2 separate regions of the Homo sapiens genome follow, and region 2 is linked to region 1. Evidence: fine-mapped expression QTL. A gene starts in region 1. The other region holds a variant in brackets. All regions are shown on one strand. Distances are between the middles of the regions. Region 1 holds the start of RSPO2 (R-spondin 2). Region 2 overlaps LOC105375704 (a long non-coding RNA gene).

Region 1 (10,675 bases):
AGTATCCCTTCTGGCCGCAGGAGTGCTGTAATGTCCTTTTCCACCAAACAGCATCTCTGCATTAAGTTCTACTAAAACAATATGCTTGGTTCTTCCCCACTCAACCACAATGGGACAGGCAGGGTGGATCAGAAAGCCATCACTGAATTAGCAAGTCATCTAATAAGGATCTGGCAAAGGATTTTAGACATTTCTATATTTTGCAGACTTCAAGCACTTTAGTTTTTCTAAGTAGACTGCAGCTTTGACTTATAAAAAGAGGAAAAGCCTCTCCAAACACTTTTGACCATAATGTAATCAAAAATTGCTGGCTCTGCCGAATACTCGAAAGAAAGTACTGGGATTGAGAAAGGAATCAGGAGGGGAGGAGAGAGGAGATAAAAAGGGACTTTTTCAAGACAAGTATCAATATCAAACTCTCATGGCCTTTGGGAAGAAATTTCTCTCTAGTATTTTTAAGTAAAATAATTTCTGAAAATAAACAATTTCCAAAAGTCAGAAATCGGGGGAGAGGGAGGGAGAGAAGTTGGAGAAGGTTTATTCTTACAAGCCGCAGATACAGAGACAATTGAAGCGCAGGGACTACAGAAGTCGCACACCATCAGTTATTTGGAGCTCTGCGCTCAGGTGGGCCAATCTCTAGCTCTGCCCCTAGGTGAGAACAGCTTAACAATGTCCTAAAAAGCCATCAAAAAAATAAGGTTCGGAAAGTCCTCCTCAAAATCTGGATGCAGGAGCGGAGATTACACACAATGAGTTATAAACAAATCACATCACAGATCGAGTGAGATGTTTACATCTTGGAGAAAAAGTCAACATTCATGAACCCGGCGACAAATTCTAATTGCGCAAAAGTCCAAAGTGCCGAATGAAATAGACAGCTCTCACCAGGTCCCTGGGAAGGGGCTGCTGCGCGCCCTTCCTGCGCGGGTAATTCGATGTGCGTGTGGTGAGTGGTTTATGTTTAAATCCACCCAGAAAATTGAATCGTGTCTAGCCGCCCTTCTTCTAAAATGCAGTTGGATTAGTTGCATCTCCAGCGGACTCCGAGACAGAAATACGCACTAAATCTGCAGGAAAGCGAGTTCCCCGAAACCTTTCTGGAGGCTTCCACCCGCCTTCTCCGCTACGCACAAGTGATGGAGAGGGAGGGAGCAGTTAAAAAGCCGCAAGTGAATTTCATTGAGAACAGAAGCCTCCACCGGTGTGGCTGCTTTTGCAAAGCAAATGGAGAGAGCGAAGTGGGGCCTGTTTTAAAAACAAACCTCTGGAGGCGAGGACTCCCCAGAAAACCAGCGCGGGAATTGCTGCTTAATTCAGAAAGTTCCCATCTCGTCGCAGTTTCCAGAAAAAAGAGATCTATGTTGGCCTTTTTCTGGAAAGGGAGGTCCTCCCCCTCGACTTGGTACCCCTCCCAAGCTCCGGAATACAGACACACGCTTGGGTACACCCACACACCACACACACACTATGCTAGGTCAAGTCCGAAGAGATCTGAGGCCGGGTTTGGGGCGCACGTGGATGGGGAAGATAAAACAAATGAGCTACAGGGAAGATGGTTAGGAGGACAGAGAGAAGAACAACGACGACAAAAAAAAAATGCATGTCAGATAAGAAATACGTCCTAAAGAGACAAGTTTAGATGAGGAGGTGGGGCGGCGAACATGAGTGCGGACCGCACGACTTAGCCCTGAGCGCCCGATTGGCGCCCGGCTCGCCGAGCTCCCAGCGCGTCTCGCTCCGGCTCCCCGCGCCTCCAGGGTACAGAAAACAGAGTGTTTTGTAGAGCTCCAGGGTCCTAAAGGTGGGGACTGGGGACCCGCAAAAGCTGGGGTGGAGAGCACAGCCCTGACCATCTGAGCCCCCGGAGCCAGGGCGTGAGTGAGCGCCTCCACACGCCACCCCTGAAGCCCACCACGCACCTTTGGCAGAGAGGGACCCACCTCGCTTACTGCGTCTCCATCGGTTGCCTTGGCAGTGGCTGTAATCCATGCAGTTCAGAATGATGAGGGCAAAGGAGAAAAGGCGAAACTGCATCTGGGCGGTCGGGCGGGGGAGAGACGCCTCTCAAAGTCTAGGAACTGGAGGGTTCGCCCAAAGAGCCGGCGCCGGCCGCGCTGCTGGGGAGGACTCAGAGGGAGACTCGCCACTCACCCCCGGGCCGCACCGGTCAGTTCAGCGCGATCAGCATCTCTCCGCCACGAACCTGAGAGACAAGAAGCGAAAACAGGGTGTGTGGGGGATGGAGAGAGCCCCGGGGAGGCAGCTGCGCCTTCGCACGTCCCAATTTAAAGAAGAGAGGGAAGGAGGAAGCGAACCCACTGCCTAGCACGAGCCGCGGAGCGGCTTAATCCAGAGCGGGCAGCTGCGGACGAGTTGGAGAGGAAGGTGATTATAATCAGTGAATTAGCAACCTCTGCCGAGCCCTAAGCTCCGACCCAGCGGCATAATGCGTTGTGCCGGCGCTCCGGGGAAAGGAAAGAACTCTAAAGGCACTGAGAGCGCAGGGCTAAAAGAACGCTCTTAGGCCATTTGGAGTCCACGGCGGTGTACCCAAGCGCCGCAGCTGCGGCTGCCTTGGTGTGGGTTGCCTACCGTGCGCACGTCTCGGGCGGCGCGGCCTCCCTAGGCGCGGTGCTCCATCCCGGGCTCGGGAAGCGAGCCGCTTGGTTAGCACGTGGGCTGGGGAAAAGTTTGCCGAGACCGGCTGGGAGCGCCTGGCAGCTCTGGAATTCCAGCGGCCGCCGCGGGGTTGGCGACGCCAGGCAGGAGCGCGGAGCGGCGGGTGCAGCCACTGGGATGCTCCGTCCCCGCCCGCGAGCGCGGTCCCCAGGCAAGGGGTGCGCCCGCTCACACTCTCTGCCTCCCTAACCAATTGTGTCGCTTCCTGCGCTTTCTCCACGGTCACTTCACAGCTAAGATTTCTTTCTTTCCGAGCTGTAGAAGGCAGAACGCTCTCGGGAGGACGAAGTGATCCGAAGGGATGTGGCAAGCGCACTTTCCGATGGAGATGCAGACCGGCTGAGGCTTGGGATGCTTCTATAAGTAGGTGGTGCTGTGGTCCAAGGCATCTAAGTCTAGGCTGCCTCGGAGTTCCTGGGTCCTAAAGCCAGAAACGTCCCGGTTTCCCTGAGGTCCTAAAGAACGTTGACAGCCAACAGCGCGCCTAACTTGGAGCGAATCCTCTTCGGGCTTTCCAGAGTGCGGGGGATAGATAAAGAGTAGCTGGGGAGACGCCCCCTGACCTTGCTGGGTCCCAGAACCCGGCTGCTCACCCCCAAGGGGTCCTCTCCAGCCCTCTAGGGTCAGTTCCAACCTCAGCGCCAACCTTTCTGCAGGGAGATCTGACTGAAGGACTGATGACTCCCTTTAAACTTTTGCAATATGCCACAACTCTGCCACTTTTTAATTTACATCTTGTCTGTGTTTTGCAGGAAGGTATGTTAGCCGGCTGAAATTATTCATAAAACGCGCCCCCACTTTGAGGAGTGAAATGGGTATTCCCAACAGCTTTTGTTCATCCTCAGAACTGTTATTTACTTTGTTTCTTCTCCAATAAAACAAAAACCTGTGATCCGTTGCCTGAAGTGCTGAAGAAGTTGGGGCCTTGATTCTTTAAAAATAATTTTAAAAAGTTCACTTCCCACTAAAGTATTTTTCATTCTTAATCCTCCTCTCATTTCCAAAGTCTCCTGAATTAAACTTTTAGGTGCTTTGGGTTTGGGGAAAATATTCTGTTTAACAAAGTGTTACATTAAATAGACTTGATGCCATCCAATTTCATTCTGGTGAAATCTGTCCTGCATTCACTACTGTAGGAAAAAATGTATTTATTCCTTAAGCAAAAGATAAGAATTTATGCCACTAACCGTGGCAGTATGAATGTCTATAGATATGCCCGCAGTTACCATATTATTATGATAGCATTTTATACTATTTAAATTCCCTTTTCTATTCCTTCAGTTTCAGAAGATGTTCAGAAATTTGATGACTTAAAAGACAATCATATAAAAAGAATATTGCAATACTCATATTTATTAACTATTCCATTATTGCCTATTCATAACTATTTTACAGACTCACTATTACATAGTGGTATTTATGTGCTAAGAATTTCAGCAGTATGCCTTTGATGCATGCCTGAGAACACCCAAGTAAATCTGAGTTGAGGTCATTGGTCCCATTTCATAGATAAGAAAATCCATCACTGAGACTGGCCCACAGGGCACAAATAGAGTTCACAAAACACATTGCAGAAACAGTGGATCTGTTTCTTGACTTTTGAGCCTTTGATTTTTATCACAGAATTTGGAAACATTTCAGTGTAGGGAGTGGCCCCAGTGTTTGGCATAACTTGATATTTCTTGATCATCTTGATATGATGCTGAATATCTCTTCAGCACCATAAATACTACTTCTTTCCAAATATAGTCATATATGCACACAACAAATGAATTATACTTATAAAGGAGTTAAATCTATGGGAGAAAGGAAGTCTTCCCTAAGTAAGCCCCCCTGCCTCCTTGCAAAGCTTTGAGATCCATTCAAGATCAGTGGTCATCAGTGTCTTTTAAAATATTTAAAGGCAAAAGTAAACACAAGACCAAGCAGAGGTAGCGCTACCATTAATCACCTGCGTCACTTTGGGCAATTTTCTTGGTCTCAGTTTCCTTGGCAGTATTTTTAGGAAGTCTGTCCAAGGTCTCTTTCACTTCTACATGTTCTGGTTTACAATCAATTTTCTATTTGTACTAGGAAGTTTGCTATGGTATCTAACCAGTGTAAGGGCAAACTCATCAGTGATGGGTTCTTTGTGTAGAAAGAAGAGGGTTAGCCACTGCCTTCCTTAGTTAAATTTACAGACCACTTCACCCTTATCCCTTCAAAGACAACTTTCCATAATTTTAATTTTAATCTTTTGTGTTGTACAGTTGGTGCATTTTTAGCCAGAGATGCTTTTCAGTTTAGTGAACCCCCAGATTCAGTTCATGAGGAAGAATTTTGACAGTACCACTTCTGTAGAAAATTGGTTAATGTGTTTAGTAAGAAAAGAATAGGCTCTGGAAGAAAGGAAAATTCTTAATTCCTTCTTTTGCTCCCTCCTGGTCTATCTCTGCCTCTTAAAAGACACCAGTGAACCTTAAAACTCTGTCAGACTTAGTTCTTGGGGTACTTGGAGTCTCACACTTAATCACTTTGGGGCTAATTTGTTGATAATGCAGAATTTTTTTTTTTTACATTCACTGAATATTTTTCCTGACTTCAAAATCCCAGGAATGTTCTTGCTACTAAAAAATACAACCCTAATGGATCCTAGACTATCATTAACTTTAATCCCATATCTCTGCTTCCTTTCATTTCTAAACTCAGAATGTGGTGTTGTTGAGGCTCACAGCTCACAGTTTCTCCATCTTGGAGACTCAATGGACTTTTTCTTCAAACTGAGTTTATATAGTGGTTTCATTAAACTGGCTTTGTAAATAGACTTGTGCCTGGGTTCTGTTTACAGAGAAGTATACTGATATACTGAGGAGGTTGACTCTATACCACTCATTGGTGATAGGGAAAGTTAACTGAGGGCAGAAGTGGGGGATGATGTTATAGAGAGGAGATAACTTCTGTATTTTATTTTTTGACTTGTAATTCGTTCATACAGCTCAAAATTCAATCCTTACAAAACACCATAACAGGGCAAAGTCTCTCCTACCTCCTTCTCTCAGGCATCCAGTTCTCCTTAGAGTCAATCAGTTATTCTTTTACAAGTGTTCACGGTTTTTGGTATACTTCAGAAGATGTTTGGTGCTTATCAAACAAGTAACTTGATAATCTTTTTGCTTATCAAGCAAGGAAAGAAGGAAGAATGTATTATATATATGTACATGCACATATATAGGCATACATATAATATGTGCGTATACATATATATAATACATTCTTCCTTCTCTGTTTTATAATATATTCTTCCTCTCTTTTATGCAATTAGTAGAATACTGTATTCACTAATCTGTACCTTGAGGGGTTGTTTTTTTTTTTTTTTTTTGAGATGGAGTCTTGTTCTGTCGCCAGGCTGGAGTGCAGTGGTACGATCCGGGCTCACTGGAACCTCCGACTCCCTGGTTCAAGCGATTCTCCTGCCTCAGCCTCACGAATAGCTGGGATTACAGGCACATGCGACCACACCCAGCTACTTTTTGTATTTTTAGCAGAGACAGGGTTTCACCGTTTTAGCCAGGATGGTCTTGATCTCCGGACTTCGTGATCCGCCTGCCTCGGCCTCCCAAAGTGCTGAGATTACAGGCGTGAGCCACCATGGCATCAGTTCATAGAGAACTGTCCTGTTCTTTTTATATAGTCACATATTATTTCATCGTATGGCTGTATTTAGCCAGCCTCCCTATCAATATACATTTAGATTGTTTTCATACTTTTTGTATCTTAAGCAATGCTTCAATTAACTTTTTCATGTGTCATTTTACCTTTCCATTATAAATTCTTAAAAGTAGAAAAGTTGAATCAAACAGTTGGATATATGTGTGTGTGTTCTGCAAATTGCCTTTCACAAAGGTTCTTTCATATTACACCGTGTGAAAATGCCTATCTCTAGATGCTGACCAACACTTTTTGACTTTTGACACTTGTAGGCAAAAAGTCGTATCTCAGTAAAGTGTTAATTTGTATTTATTTTCTTTTAAATGAAATTTTGTGTGTCTTTAGTATGCTCCATCCATTTGTATTTTCTTTTCCATGAACTCTCTGAAGATATAATTTGCCTATTTTTCTATTGTGTTCTTGGTCATTTGTTTTTGTTTGTAGAATTTGCATGTATTGATATAATGTCTTTTGTGATTTGAGTTGCATATTTTTCCAAGTTTCTTATTTACCTTTTGACTTTGTTTTTGATGTATATTAATATGTAAAAAAATTTTAAATACTTTTACATAGTGCAGTTTGCCAGTCTTATCTTTTATAGCTTCTCTGTGTCATACTTGAAAAAGCTCTTCCTCGCTATTTATGACAAACCCACAACCAATACCATACTGAATGGGCAAAAGCTGGAAGCATTGCCTTTGAAAACCAGCACAAGACAAGGATGCCCTCTCTCACCACTCCTATTCAACATAGTATTGGAAATTCTGGCCAGGGCAATCAGGCAATAAATAAAGGGTATTCAAATAGGAAGAGAGGAAGTCAAATTGTCTCTCTTTCCAGATGACATGATCCTATATTTAGAAAATCCCATTGTCTCAGCCCAAAATCTCCTTAAGCTGATAAGCAACTTCAGCAAAATCTCAGGATACAAAATAAATGTGCAAAAATCACAAGCATTCCTATACAACAATAGGCAAACAGAGAGCCAAATCATGAGAGAACTCCCATTCACAATTGCTACAAAGAGAATAAAATACCTAGGAATACAACTTACAAGGGATGTGAAGGACCTCTTCAAGGAGAACTACAAATCACTGCTCAAGGAAATCAGAGAGGACACAAAGAAATGGAAAAAACATTCCATGCTGATGGATAGGAAGAATCAATACCATGATAATGGCCATAGTGCCCAAAGTAATTTATAGATTCAATGCTATCCCCATCAAGCTACCATTGACTTTCTTCACAGAATTAGAAAAAACTACTTTAAATTTCATATGGAACCAAAAAAAAGAGCCCATATGGCCAAGACAATCCTAAGCAAAAAGAACAAAGTTGGAGGCATCATGCTACCTGACTTCAGACTATACTACAAGGCTACAGTAACCAAAACAGCATGGTACTGGTATCAAAACAGATATATAGACCAATGGAACAGAACAGAGGCCTCAGAAATAAGGCCACACATCTACAACCATATGATCTTTGACAAACCTGACAAAAGCAGTGGGGAAAGGATTCCCTATTTAATAAATTGTGTTGGAAAACTGGGTAGCCATAGGCAGAAAACTGAAACTGGACCCCTTTCTTACACCTTATACAAAAATTAACTCAACATGAATTAAAGACTTAAACGTAAGACCTAAAACTATAAAAACCCTAGAAGAAAACCTAGGCAATACCATTCAGGACATAGGCATGGGCAAAGAATTCATGACTAAAACACCAAAAGCAATGGCAACAAAAGCCAAAATTGACAAATGGGATCCAATTAAACTAAAAAGCTTCTGCACAACAAAAGAAACTATCATCAAAGTGAACAGGCAACCTACAGAATGAGAGAAAATTTTTGCAATCTATCCATCTAACTAAGGGCAAATATCCAGAATCTACAAAGAACTTAAACAAATTTACAAGAAAAAAACAACCCCATCAAAAAGTGGGCAAAGGATATGAACAGACCCTTCTCAAGAGAAGACATTTATGCAGCCAACAAACATATGAAAAAAAGCTCATTATCACTGGTCATTAGAGAAATGCAAATCAAAACCACAATGAGATACCGTCTCATGCCAGTTAGAATGGTGTTCATTAAAAAGACAGGAAACAACAGATGCTGGAGAGGATGTGGAGAAATAAGAACACTTTTACGTTGTTGGTGTGAGTGTAAATTAGTTCAACCATTGTGGAAGACAATGTGGCAATTCCTCAAGGGTCTAGAACCAGAAATACCATTTGACTCACCAATCTCATTACTGGGTATATACCCAAAGAATTATAAATCATTCCACTATACAGACACATGCACACATATGTTTATTGTGGCACTATTCACAACAGGAAAGACTTGGAACCAACCCAAATGCCCATCAGTGATAGACTGGATAAAGAAAATGTGGCACATATACACCATGGAATACTATGCAGCCATAAAAAAGGAAGAGTTCATGTCCTTTGCAGGGACATGGTTGAAGCTGGAAACCATCATTCTCAGCAAACTAACACAAGAACAGAAAACCAAAACCAAACACTGCATGTTCTCACTTATAAGTGGGAGTTGAACAATGAGAAGGCATGGACACAGGGAGGGGAACATCACACACCAGGGCCTGTCAGGGGGTTGGGGGCTAGGGGAGAGATAGCATTAGGAGAAATACCTAATGTAGATGATGGGTTGATGGGTGCAGCAAACCACCATGGCACATGTATACCTATGTAACAAACCTACACATTCTGCATATGTATCCCAGAACTTAAAGTATACTTTTTAAAAAGAGAAAGAAAAAGCTCTTCCTTGTGCCATTATTTTTAGATTTTCATTTAGGAATTTTCCAATATATTTTTTCAATGTTAACACCCATAGGATGCTAGTGATTTTATGACTGTACAGTGTGGGCTACAGTAGAATAGATTTAAAGTTTTCTGAATCTTTCATAAGCATTTATGCTTATAGATTTGGTTGACTTTGGCACTGATTCTTGTTTTCATTAGCTAATTGATTTAGAGTTATCTTTTATGTTATCTGTTATTCATTCTCAGATTTAAAATTTCTCACAATCTTTTTAATCATTGTTGATATTGATTGTATGCACTCTTCCAGTGTAGAATTTATCCTTTAATTGCTTTGGAACAAATTATAGCATTTTTGCCATTGTGCTACTATTGATAGTTTTTTCCTGTTAAATATAAGCACGTCTGTTTTGCCAGTTGCATGTGATAGCCCATGTTCATTTATTATATTTTGTGTGAAGTAATTATATTAATATGAAAGGTCTTCAACAAGGTCACTGACCAGTCCTTATCTAGGCTGATTTGTTGTTTTAAAAAGCCACATCACAATCACTTATTTAATGTTTAAAAAATGTGTAAATATTTGACTCCTCCGAATGTTAATACTGCCTTCTGCCACTTGAGTACTCATCTGTGGACTGATGTGATGAAGCCTATTTCTCATTTTGTGCTTCATCCCCATGGAAGAAATCCAGGAGGCAGCTTTGTTGACTTCAAAGGAAGTCCAACACAGACCAGCTCAAAAGAGAAAACTCAAGATCTGACCCAAAGTTTTCAAATAATTTCCCTTATTTAATTTTGTGTGCCCTGAACTCTTTTGAACTAAAGTAATATGTGTCATTTCCATTCCTTGTGGTGTGAATGTTGTTGCTAGAAGGAACTATTACTCCACACAAGTAACAAGAGATTCTCAGTTTTCTTAAAAATTAGGTTGTTTTCATTAAATGAATAGAAGGTCTGGTTTTACTTTATTTGTGGACACTCAGCTTGCTATAATAGAAGTAAACAATAGAACAGGTAATTCCTAAAGGCAGGAAATATCCTCCTCTGAACTTTTTTCTGTACTGGTATCCAAAATAGATACGCCTCCCCTAATCATTCCATTTGTCTTTAACTTATAGTTGTAATGAATTGTGTTACTGCTCAAGAACAAATTTGTCAGCCACCCTCAGCAAATGTACAAAAGTTTATGTCACACATTTTATGTACTAGTTTTATTTCTTGCTCCATTTTAAGTTTCTAGCCTTATTTTCCCTTTCCCACATTTTCCTCAGCTATTTGCAATATATTTTACTTTGCTACTTTGCAGTATCACGTGCATCTGTAGAAGCCCTTTTAACCTTGGAACAGTATGGAAAAATTTTGTTACAGATATAAAATAAAAAACATATACACAGGTCAGAGAACAAATGTGGGAATTCTTCTAGTTGCTAAACATGTCTATTCTAACTATTCACTCCAGAAGTGAAGAAATAAACATGGGGTAGGTTTGGGGATCAACTAAGCCCACTAGGGC
Region 2 (10,675 bases), 180 kb after region 1:
ATCAAACTAACCTGATAATGTGAGGCTATGAATATGGTTAGAGAAGTCTTCCCTGACTTTCCTATGTAGAATGGCTCCCCCAGTTTCTCATCACCTTCTTGTCATGTGACAAGAACTAAGTGAAGCCACAGAGATACAAAGATGCCTAAGACGATGGTTTTAAGGCAGCGGCAGATACAAAGCAGAGCTCTGTCTGTAGCTGCTGGAAAAGGTTTATCTAGACTACTAGCTTCACTAATAGTCTTTATCTCTTCATGTCTTTTTTATTTTAAAAATATTGCTTTTCTAATTTTTTTAAATTTCCTTTTTCACTTCCCTTCTTTTTTTTTTTTTTTTTTTTAAGATGGAGTCTTGCTCTGTCACCCAGTGCAGTGGGGGACTCTCAGCTCACTGCAACCTCCACCTCCTGGGCTCAAGCAGTTCTCCTGCCTTAGCCTCCCAAGTAGCTTGGTCTACAGGTGTGTGCCACGTAGCCCAGCTAATTTATGTTTTTCCAGAAGAGACAAGGTTTCTCTATGTTGGCCAGGCTGGTTTTGAACTCCTGACCTCAAGTGATCTGCCCGTCTCAGCCTCCCAAAGTGCTGGGATTACAGGCGTGAGCCACCGTGCCTGGCCAATTCCTATTTCTTTTAAGGCATTATCTCTTGTGTTTATTTTCTCTGGTATTCCTTTTCATTTCATCTTTGTGTTGGAAATGTTTTTCCTTTTATCTCTAATTCTTTTGTCGTTTTGTCCCCTCAGTACTGAGCTTTTCTGATTGTAACTTATAAGTTACCCAGTGAACACATTCTTCCACAAAACACCATTATTCAAAACCTTGAATAATTTTCCTAATGTTCTTAGACTTGTTTTAACGTGTGAAGTTACTATTTTGAGCTGTTTTGTGGGCACATCTTCCTGGCCTGCTTTCCTTGTCTGTAGATGTTTATTTGCTCCTTTTTTTTTTTTAAATAATAATTGTGTATGGGATTTTCCCTCCGTACTCTCCTGGTGTTCAGTTCTAGTTTTTCCCACATTTTTACAATGGGATGGAATGGAGGAAATCTTTTCTGACTTTAAGAAGCTCCCACTTCTGTTGTTTTTGCATAGTGGTCAAAGCGTCAGTGGCTTGCTTTCTGGGATTTCCTGGCCCCGAGCCCTCTCCACTGGACCTTTACTTTTCTTTATCCCATTTATCCCAATGCTGCTTTGGATTGTTTGCAGCAGATTCTTGTCAGTGTGGGGCCATGTCCCAGATGGGAGTGAGCAGTGGCGAGTCACAGGTTTTGGAGTTACAGGCAGGCTGGACTGCTCCGGTGCCCACAGACTGCCAGCAGGAGCGCCACCCTGGCTAAGAGGACAATGTGCTGTCTCCTATCTGGCTGCTCTGAGCAGTGGCCTGCAAGCCCACAGCTGCTGAGGCTCCTGCCTGCACCTGCTCTCACCTGCTGGCAGTGATCTCAGTCCTCAGCTTCATGGCTACCTTCTTCCTCCCGCACAGAACCTGACAGTCTGTGACTGTTGAGGGGTTACCACCACCTGCTTGTATTTTGAGGTCCCCTAGCTTTATTGTAAATGTTGCTTAGGTGTTTTGGCTTTGCCATCTAGTTGCTGTGTGTGTGTGTGTGTGTGTGTGTGTGTGTGTGTGTGTGTGTGTGTGTGGTGTGTGTGTAGGAATTCAGAGATTGACAATTTGGGCCACCGCCATCTCCCCCAAATACCAGTCAACTGCTTTTAAAACTAGGACAAACTAGAAATGAGCATTTATGACCTTCCAGAAAGGCTCTTTGAATTAAAGAACAGTCCTAAATATTTATCAAATGTATTTTCCCATGTCCCTATCAGCACCCACTATTCAGCCACTTATTGTTTTCCTAACCAGTTCAGCTGTGTTCCGTTTACTCCCACCCCTCACTCACAGTTTAAGTAACCTTTCTAGTATGCAAATACGACTATGTCACTTGTATTCCTACTGATTCAATCCTAAGTTCTTTGGCAGGGCATCCAAGGTCCCCATGACTGGGGTCTTTCTCCCTCTTTGCTCTGATGTCCCGTCACTTAGCCTTCAAACTCTGTACATTAATAATACTGGTCTGCTTGCAATCATGTACATACATGATGTTCTTTCAAGCCTCAGTGCTTCTGTGTGTCTTATTGTGTCTGCCTGGATTGTATTTCCCACTTTTCTTCTTCTGGCTAATTCTTACTGGACTTCCCAGGCTTCACTGCCCTTCTCTGAGTTCCCACAGCATCTTGTACTTATCTTTATTCTGTCATTTACCAAGTAAGATATATGTTATATGCTAAAGTGTCTATTTCCTCTACTTGGCAGTAAACTAGGGTCCATATGTTACTCATCCATGTGCCCCAGCATCAAACACAGTGTCTTGCACATAGATAGTTTTAATATCTTCACTGCTTCTTGCTTCTACCTGTCCTTTCTGAGTCATTTTACCTCTCTTGGTATTTCAGCTATGCCCCATTTCATCTACTGCCATGGTATATTAAAAGAGAAAAATATCAGTGCTGATGACTCCCAAATTCCTCTTTCTGACTCAAGCACCTCATCTGAGCTCCAGATCATTTATTCAACTTATTCGTTAACATCTGCAATTGCATGTCTCCCAGGAATCCAAAATCAAGGTCCAGCCCTCCACTAGTGTTCCCTTTCTTGATCAATGGCACCCTGTTGATCATGCCAGAAGACAAAAGTCATGCTAACTCATTGTGTTTTTTTTAATTGCCAAGCATCAGCTTTCGTTAATTCCACCTTCCAAGTTTATCTCAGATTTATTGTTTTCTCACCTTTTCCAGTCACTGCACCAGTTGAAGCCATATCATCTCTCACCTGAAGCCACTGCAAATAGATTCCTAACTATATCCCTGTTTCCACTCTTGACTTTCTCTAATCAATTTACACACGATAGACAAAATTACCCTTTGAAAATGAAAACCTGATTATATTATCCTCTGCTTAAAACCAATCAATGGCTTTTTGTTGTTCTTAGCATGAAACCTGAAAATCCTTAAATTGGCCTGTAAGTTCCTGTTCTTCCTTTTGTGCACGGGCTTTCTTTAATTTCCTTAAATTTAAACAGCTCCTTCCAATCATCCAGTTATGCTGTTTCCTCTGCCTAGATTCTCCTCTCCATCCTCCTTCATCCTCACTGGGGCAAACTCCTATTCTAGCTTTGAAATGGTAACAATTTTTCTTTTTATATTATTTGTTGCATCCCTAAGCACAGTTCCGTTTTGCTTGTTTGTGAACTTTACATAAATGAAAACACACTGTATCCGTCCTTTTGTGACTTGGATTTTATGTTCAACATTATGTGTAAAGGATTCATTCATGTTGCTGAGTGTATTGTTTGTTCATTTTCACTGCTTTATAATATTTCACATTTCCACAAAATCTATTTTAGACTCGATGAAGTTTAGGGTTTCTAGTTTTGGGCTATACTGAGCTATGAATGATGCTGCTATGAACCTTCTACAAATATTCTAGTCTACCCATGCACCCATTTTTTCAGGTATATACCTATGAACTTTGGCAGTTAATACCAAACTGCTCTCTAAAGTGGGCATTCAAGATTACACTCTTCTCAGGAGTATATAAGAGTTATTGTTGCTGTATATCCTTGCTGACACTTTTTAATTCATGGCAATCTGATGGAAGTATATGTTGCATACACTTTTTTATTGTAAATTAGTGTTATATAAAATACTAATATGGTGATATATGGTTGATTAGTTCCAAAAGATGACCACAACAATTCTTCTTACCTCAGTCTCCTTCTGCAATGTGAATCTGTAGCTTCTTCATTAAAAAGTAGAGTCTACTTCTCTTCCCCCTAAATATGGGCTGGCCCCATGACTTGCTTTGACTTCTAGGTCTGGGTCTTCAGAAGCCTAGCAGCTTCTAAGTTTATTTTCATGGAATCCAGCTGCCCTATAGATAAGTTCAGGCTAGACTACTGAATTATGACAGTCTATGCAGAGTGAGGCCAAGTCATCTCCCAGCTCTTCCAACCATCCCAGCTGATGTGGGTTGGATCTGTGTCCCTTCCTAAGTCTCATGTTGAATTGTAATCCCCAGTGTAGGAGGTGGGGCCTGGTGGGAGGTGATTGGATTATGGGGGCAGAGTTCTCATGAACAGTTTTGCACCATTACCCCCTTGATACTGAATAGTAAGTGAGTTCTCATGAGATCTGGTTGTTAAAAGTGGGTAGCACCTCCCCTGCCACCTTCCTCCTGCTCTCAGCCATGTGAAGTACCAGCTTTCTCTTCACTTTCTGCCATGATTGTAAGTTTCCTGAGGTCTCCTTAGAAGCCAAAGCTGCTATGCTTCCTGTACAGCCTGCAGAACTGTGGGCCAACTCTTTTCTTTGTAAAATTACCCAGTCTCAGGTATTTATTTACAGCAGTGCAACAACTGACTAATATACCAGCTAAGATGCCAGATATATGAGTGAAGTCATCTTAGACAACCAGCCTCGGTTGAGCCTTCAGCCGAATGCAGCTGCATGAGTGACCCCAGTCAACATCATGCAGTGACATAATATATGGCTGTTATTTTTTTTCTTTATTACCACTCCCTTAGAACAGCATGAAGGCTGTGATTCTAAAGCCACAGAGTTGTAGAAATTTTATTATACAGCAATAGGTCGTTGAATCACAATATATAAAAAGCCTTAAAAATCCTTATATCCCTTGTATCAGTTTCCTTTAAAAAAGAATCTATCTTAAAGATATATTCAAAATATTATCTTTAAGTGAGTACAAAAATATTCCCTGTAGTGTTATTTACTTTTAAAATATATATATAGAGAGAGATGGGGTCTCACTTTACTGCCCAGGCTGGTCTCAAACTCTTGGGCTCAAGTGATCCTCCCACCTTAGTCTCCCAAAGTTCTGGGACTACAACCATGAGCCACCACACCCAGCCTACATCTTTTTTTTTTTTTGACACGGAGTTTTGCTCTTGCCACCCAGGCTGGAGTGCAGTGGTGCAATCTCAGCTCACTGCAACCTCTGCCTCTTGAGTTCAAGCGATTCTCCTGCCTCAGCCTCCTGAGTAGCTGGGATTACAGTCACCCACCACCATGCCCAGCTAATTTTTGTATTTTTAGTAGAGACAGGGTTTCACCATGTTGGCCAGGTTGGTCTGGAACTCCTGACCTCTTTTCAAAGTGGAAATAACCTCTAAATTTAAAAATTGTAAAAGGTTGTTAATAAAATAAATTATGAGGCTGAGCATGGTGGCTCACACCTGTAATACCAGCACCTTGGGAGGCCAAGGTGGTGGATGGATCACTTGAGGCCAGGAGTTTGAGATCAGCCTGGCCAACATGACGAAACCCTGTCTCTACTAAAAATACAAAAAAAAAAAAAAAATTAGCCGGCCATGGTGGTGCACATCTGTAATTTCAGCTACTCAGGAGGGTGAGGCATGAGAATCACTTGAACCTGGAAGGCAGAGGTTGCAGTGAACCAAGATTGCACCATTGTACTCCAGCCTAGGTGCCAGAATGAGACTGTCTCAAAAAAATAAAAATAAATAAATAAATAAATTATGATGCATTCATGAGATAGAACACTATACAGACAAAACTACATTGAAAGGATTTTAATGACATTGGAAACTGCTGAAGAAAAATATCAGGTGGTAATGAATCTATCTATCTTTCTACCTTCATTTCATTCCTGACTTGTTTAAAAAATTGTACATAGAAAAAGACTAAAATTAAATGGAAAAAAATAAACACATTAACAATGGTTTGATGGTTTGATTTAATTTTTCCCATTCTTTGAAAGTTTTTTACAGAGACCATATGTTGCTTATATATACAGAAAAGAAGCTAAGGTTGTTTTTTGGAGTACAGTCATATACCACATAATGATGGTTTGGTCAGTGACAAACCCACATATACTATATCATGGTCTCCTAAGATTATAGTACATATTTTTACTGTACTTTTTCTATGTTTAGATACACAGATACTTACCATTGTGTTACAACTGCCTGCAGTATTCAGTACAGTAACATGCTGTGTGGGTTTGTAGCCTAGGAGCAATAGGCTATACCATCTAGCATAAGTGTGTGGTAGGCTATACCATCTAGGTTTGTGTGAGTACACACTGATGTTAGCACAGTGATGAACTAGCCTAAGGACACATTTCTCAGAACATATCTCATCTCCTCATTGTTAAGTGACAGAAGACTGTAGTAGAAAATCTGCAGTTAAATTTGACATGCTCTGGCAGAAAAAAATGCCTCTACAGTTGAAATCACACAGGCTGTAGTACTCTACTTCCCCTGGTGGCAATCGGTTCAAATTTCAGGAGCAGACCTGAAGGCTTGATAGCTCAGATTTTTCAAAGTTGAACAATATAGCGTTTCTATCTCTTAATTTATCAGAATTAATAAGAAAAAAAGGCCATACTATTTTACTGTTAGAATTATTTTGTAAAGCAAAGAGCATTTGAAAGTCCTGAAGGTAGGAAGAACATAATCTGAAAATAAATGACAATCCTTTAGATACATCTAACTTTATGAATAAATAACTTTATGAAAAATATGGTCTTATT[A/T]ATTTTCATTTTTCTATGGACTGGTGGAAACTTCATTTGGGAAACTCTGGCTCAAAGAAAGAAAAAACAATGCTAAAAGTTAAAATTACACAGGGATAGCAAATGTCATATATATTCTTCCTTGGTAGGAAAGCACCTAGGTTTCCCAATAAATTATCTTTAAAGTAGAGAGTAATAGAACTTCTAGAGCCATTGAGTTAAGTTAGGTTTCTTTCTAGGGCAGAGTTTCTCTAAGTGGAAGTGCTTATTAAATAATCGGTCTCAGGGACCCTACCCTAGACCCACCGATATTGAACCTCTGGGATTGTGACCTAGGAATCTAGATTTTTAACAACATCCTCAGGAGAGTCTTACACACTTAAACTTGGAAACATTGTCTTTGAGGGGTTCTCTATCTTGATCTGGTTGGCGGTTACATGGCTGTAGACTATGGAAAGATTTATCAAGATGTACACTTGTGTACTTTACATAAATGACACCTCATTAAAAAGCAAAAAGAAACAAAAAATGCTAGGAATTACATAATGCTTTAACAAAACAAGTAAACTTATTGTTTTGAAATTTTTAATTAACATTTGTGGCCATAATTTATATATTTCTGTTGTACTGAAGCAGATTGTTTTGCATTTTTGTTAGCAAACTTCGGCAGTGGTCATTTTAGAAACAATCTTGTACATACTTTTGATTAAAACACTTGATTTTGTTAGTGAAAAAAGAATTCTAATTTATAGCCAAGAATTTTTGGCCACTATTTTTTTTCTTGGATATAGATAACATTTATTATTTTACATTTTAAAAAATTTATATTACTTTAGGAGGTTGATGAGTCAAGTAAATGGTACTTTGAACACCCTGTTGTCTTTGTTTTGTGGCAGTGAAGAAATGAAAATTTCTGTAAAAAGAAAGAGAGGAAAGAAGGAAGGAAGGGTGGGAGCTGGAAGGAGAAAGGGAGGGAGAAAAGAAGGAAGAAAAACAAGGAAAAACAGAAGGAAAGAAAATGGAAGCAACCATTGCCCCAAGGACAAACTATTCCTGCCCACCCTCTCAAAACTAATCCCCTCAAATAGCCCAAGACGTTTCATATGTTTTTATCCTTAGTTACATCTCCAGCTATTTATTCTTTGATTCCCATCTAGAACAGCCTCTAGCTATTGTAACACTTTATGTTTGAATATATTTTGTCATTGTTTCCATTAGTGTGTCTGTACAAACTTTTTTTTTTTTTTTTAAATATGACTGTTACTCCATTGAAAAGAGAAGAGCAGGATTCACTGTAAGGGGCAGAGAATCTGTGGCCTCTCATTTTGATCCCTGATTTATCACACACCTTCACAGTTTTACCAGTGTCAGAAGGAGGCCTGTTTTCTCCTGGAATGCTACATTCTTTGGGGATGAAGTGTTTTGAGTCTTTAGCACTGCATTGGAGTGTCTCTGGAGTGTTTAGCATCTGGATACAGCCGTCATCACAGTAATGAGAGATAGAGCAGGCCAGAGCTGGCTCTGTCTGGAGGGAAAAACAGGATCAACACCAAATCTACCATGGCTCTTTCCGTTGTTACAAAAATAATGGATCAATAAGGCATCTCTGTGAAATACTTATTCCATCACCCAATCTATTGTTTACACATAGTTAGAAAGTGAGTCTAATAGTTAATGACATTACTATAAAATTTCAGGAGATTATCAACCATAATTTTCAGGAGATTAATAACCATAACAACAGTTGCAGTCTGTTTTTGTAAACTCTGTTTTCCTCATACAAATGTAATATCTTTCTCTTTTTCAATAATAGTACTAATAATATTAGAAGGACTTCTGAAATATAACAAATGGCCCATGTTTGCTCAAATAGTCTTTCGTTAGTATCACCGAGAGACAAAATTCTATGCTAGATAGATCATCTGATGTATTTTGTATGTATAAAAAATTTGCATAGCTTTTATTATAAAAATCACACACGTATGTAATAAAAAGATAAGCTGAAAAGATCATAATTAAAGTCTCTGGTGGAACAGCCACTTAGAGATAATCACTAATACCAACTTACAATAGAGGTATGTTCTGATAAAGCCATCATAAGTCAAAAATATCATAAATCAAAAATGCAACTAATATCCCAATAAACCCATTGTAAAGTCAAAAAATCATAAGTTGAATCATTGTAAGTCAGTGGCCATCTGTATTTGTAGAGATACATCAAGAGTGAGATAGATCATTGCATTTATTTAGCACAAACTATGACCAGACCTTGTGTTATGAATACTAGCTCATCTAGGTATTACTGTTATAAACACTATTTTTACAGAGGAGAAAGCCAAGAAACAAAGTTAAATAATGTATCCAAGGTCATAACACTAGTAGATGGTAGAGCTAGAATTTGAGGCCAAGCAGTCTGACTTTGAAGTTTTTATTCTTAATCAATTGCTAGGGTTACAATTACATATATATGTGTATATAATTTTTTTGAGACAGGGTCTCGCTCTGTTGCCCAGGCTAGAGTACAGTGACACAGTTTTGGCTCACTGCAGCCTCAACCTCCTGGGCTGGAGTCATTCTACCTCAGCCCCACAAAAAGCTGGGACTACAGGTGTGCACCACCATGCCTGGCTAATTTTAAAAAATATATTTTTGTAGAGATGGGGTCCTGCTATGTTGCCCATGCTGATCTTGAACTCCGGAGCTCAAGTAATCCTCCTGCCATGGCCCTCTAAAATGCTGGGATTATAGCCATGAGCTACTGTGCCCAGCCATCAGCATATTTTTAAACAGCTTTATTGAGGTATAATTGATATAATAAACTGCACATATTTAAAATGTACAATTTAGTAAATTTCAAAAACTATTTTTCAGTGTACATTCCAATAGTGTTCAATATATTCATATTGTTGTGTAACACATATTCAGAACTTTTCATCTTGCAGAACTGAAACTCTACCCATTAGACAGTAACAATCCATTTCTCCCTCCCCTCAGCTTCTGGCAACCACCATTCTACTTTTTGTTTCTATGAATTGACTATTTTAGATAGTGGAATCATACAGTATTTGTGATGTTGTTACTAGCTTATTTCATTTAGCAGAATGTCCCCAAGGTTCATCCATGTTGTAGTATGTGTCAGAACCTCTTTCCTTTTTTTAAGGCTGAATAATATTCCATTGCGTGTATACCACAATTTGCTTATCCATTCATCTATCAATGAACAATGGGTTTCTTCCATCTCTTGGCTATTGTGAATAATGCTGCAATTAACATGGGTGTGCACCTATCTCTTTCAGATCCAGCTTTGAATTCTTTTGGAAATACATCAAAAAATGAAATCACTGCATTATACTATAATTTTATTTTTAATTTTTTGAGGAACTGCCGTATTGTTTCCATGGTGACCATATCATCTTACATTATTACAGACAGTGCACAGAGGTTCCGATTTCTTCACATCCTTGTCAATATTTATTATTTTCTGGGTATTTTTTTTTTTTTGGATGGTAGACATCCAAATGGGTGTGAGGTGATGTCTTATTGTGGTTTTAATTGGTGTTTCTCTGATGATTAGTGATATTGAACATCTTTTCATATGCTTGTTGGTCATTTTTATATCATCTTTGGTATATGTGCTGCCAAAGTGAGCACTGTATATCATCTTTGGAGAAATGTCTGTCCAAGTCCTTTGCCCATTTTTTAATCAGGCTATTTTGTTGTTGTTGTTGAGTTGTAGAAGTTCTTTATGTATCCTGGATATTAACCCTTCCAATATATCTTTTTAAACAAATGGAATTACACTTTGCAGGCTGTTTAGCAAACTATTTTTTCATTTTATATATGTTGAATATATTATTTTATATTATTTTGCTACAGGATTTATATTCTGTCATATCTATAGTATACTTTTTAATGCTTTCTCTATTGTAGACACTTTTACTTTTGCTATTATAAATAAAATTATACTGATCATATTTATTAATTTTATGGATAATTTCTGTATTAGCTTCCTGAGGCTGTTGTAACAAAGTACCACAAATTTGGTGGGTAGAAACAATAGAAATTTATTTTCTCACAGCTCTGGAGGCTATAAATCTGAAATCTAGGAGGGCCACACTAATCCAGGGA

The links. PIP is the estimated chance that this variant, and not a neighbour inherited with it, causes the effect.
Region 2: its variant is fine-mapped to the expression of RSPO2 in esophagus muscle (GTEx, PIP above 0.99).

The regions. Positions count from the first base shown.
Region 1 is chr8:108,080,602-108,091,276 of GRCh38, forward strand. It overlaps RSPO2 (R-spondin 2), which reads right to left and starts at 3,019. Exons shown (of 6, transcript NM_178565.5): 1 at 2,596-3,019; 2 at 1,944-2,206. The coding sequence starts at 2,037. RefSeq lists silencers at 1,040-1,334, 1,875-2,050 and an enhancer at 1,212-2,158.
Region 2 is chr8:108,260,351-108,271,025 of GRCh38, forward strand. LOC105375704 (a long non-coding RNA gene) reads right to left here. Exons shown (of 3, transcript XR_928530.4): 3 at 5,649-8,072. Among named protein-coding and RNA genes, the nearest start is that of EIF3E, 17 kb to the left of the region's middle. The variant A/T (reference allele first, on the strand shown) is at 6,569.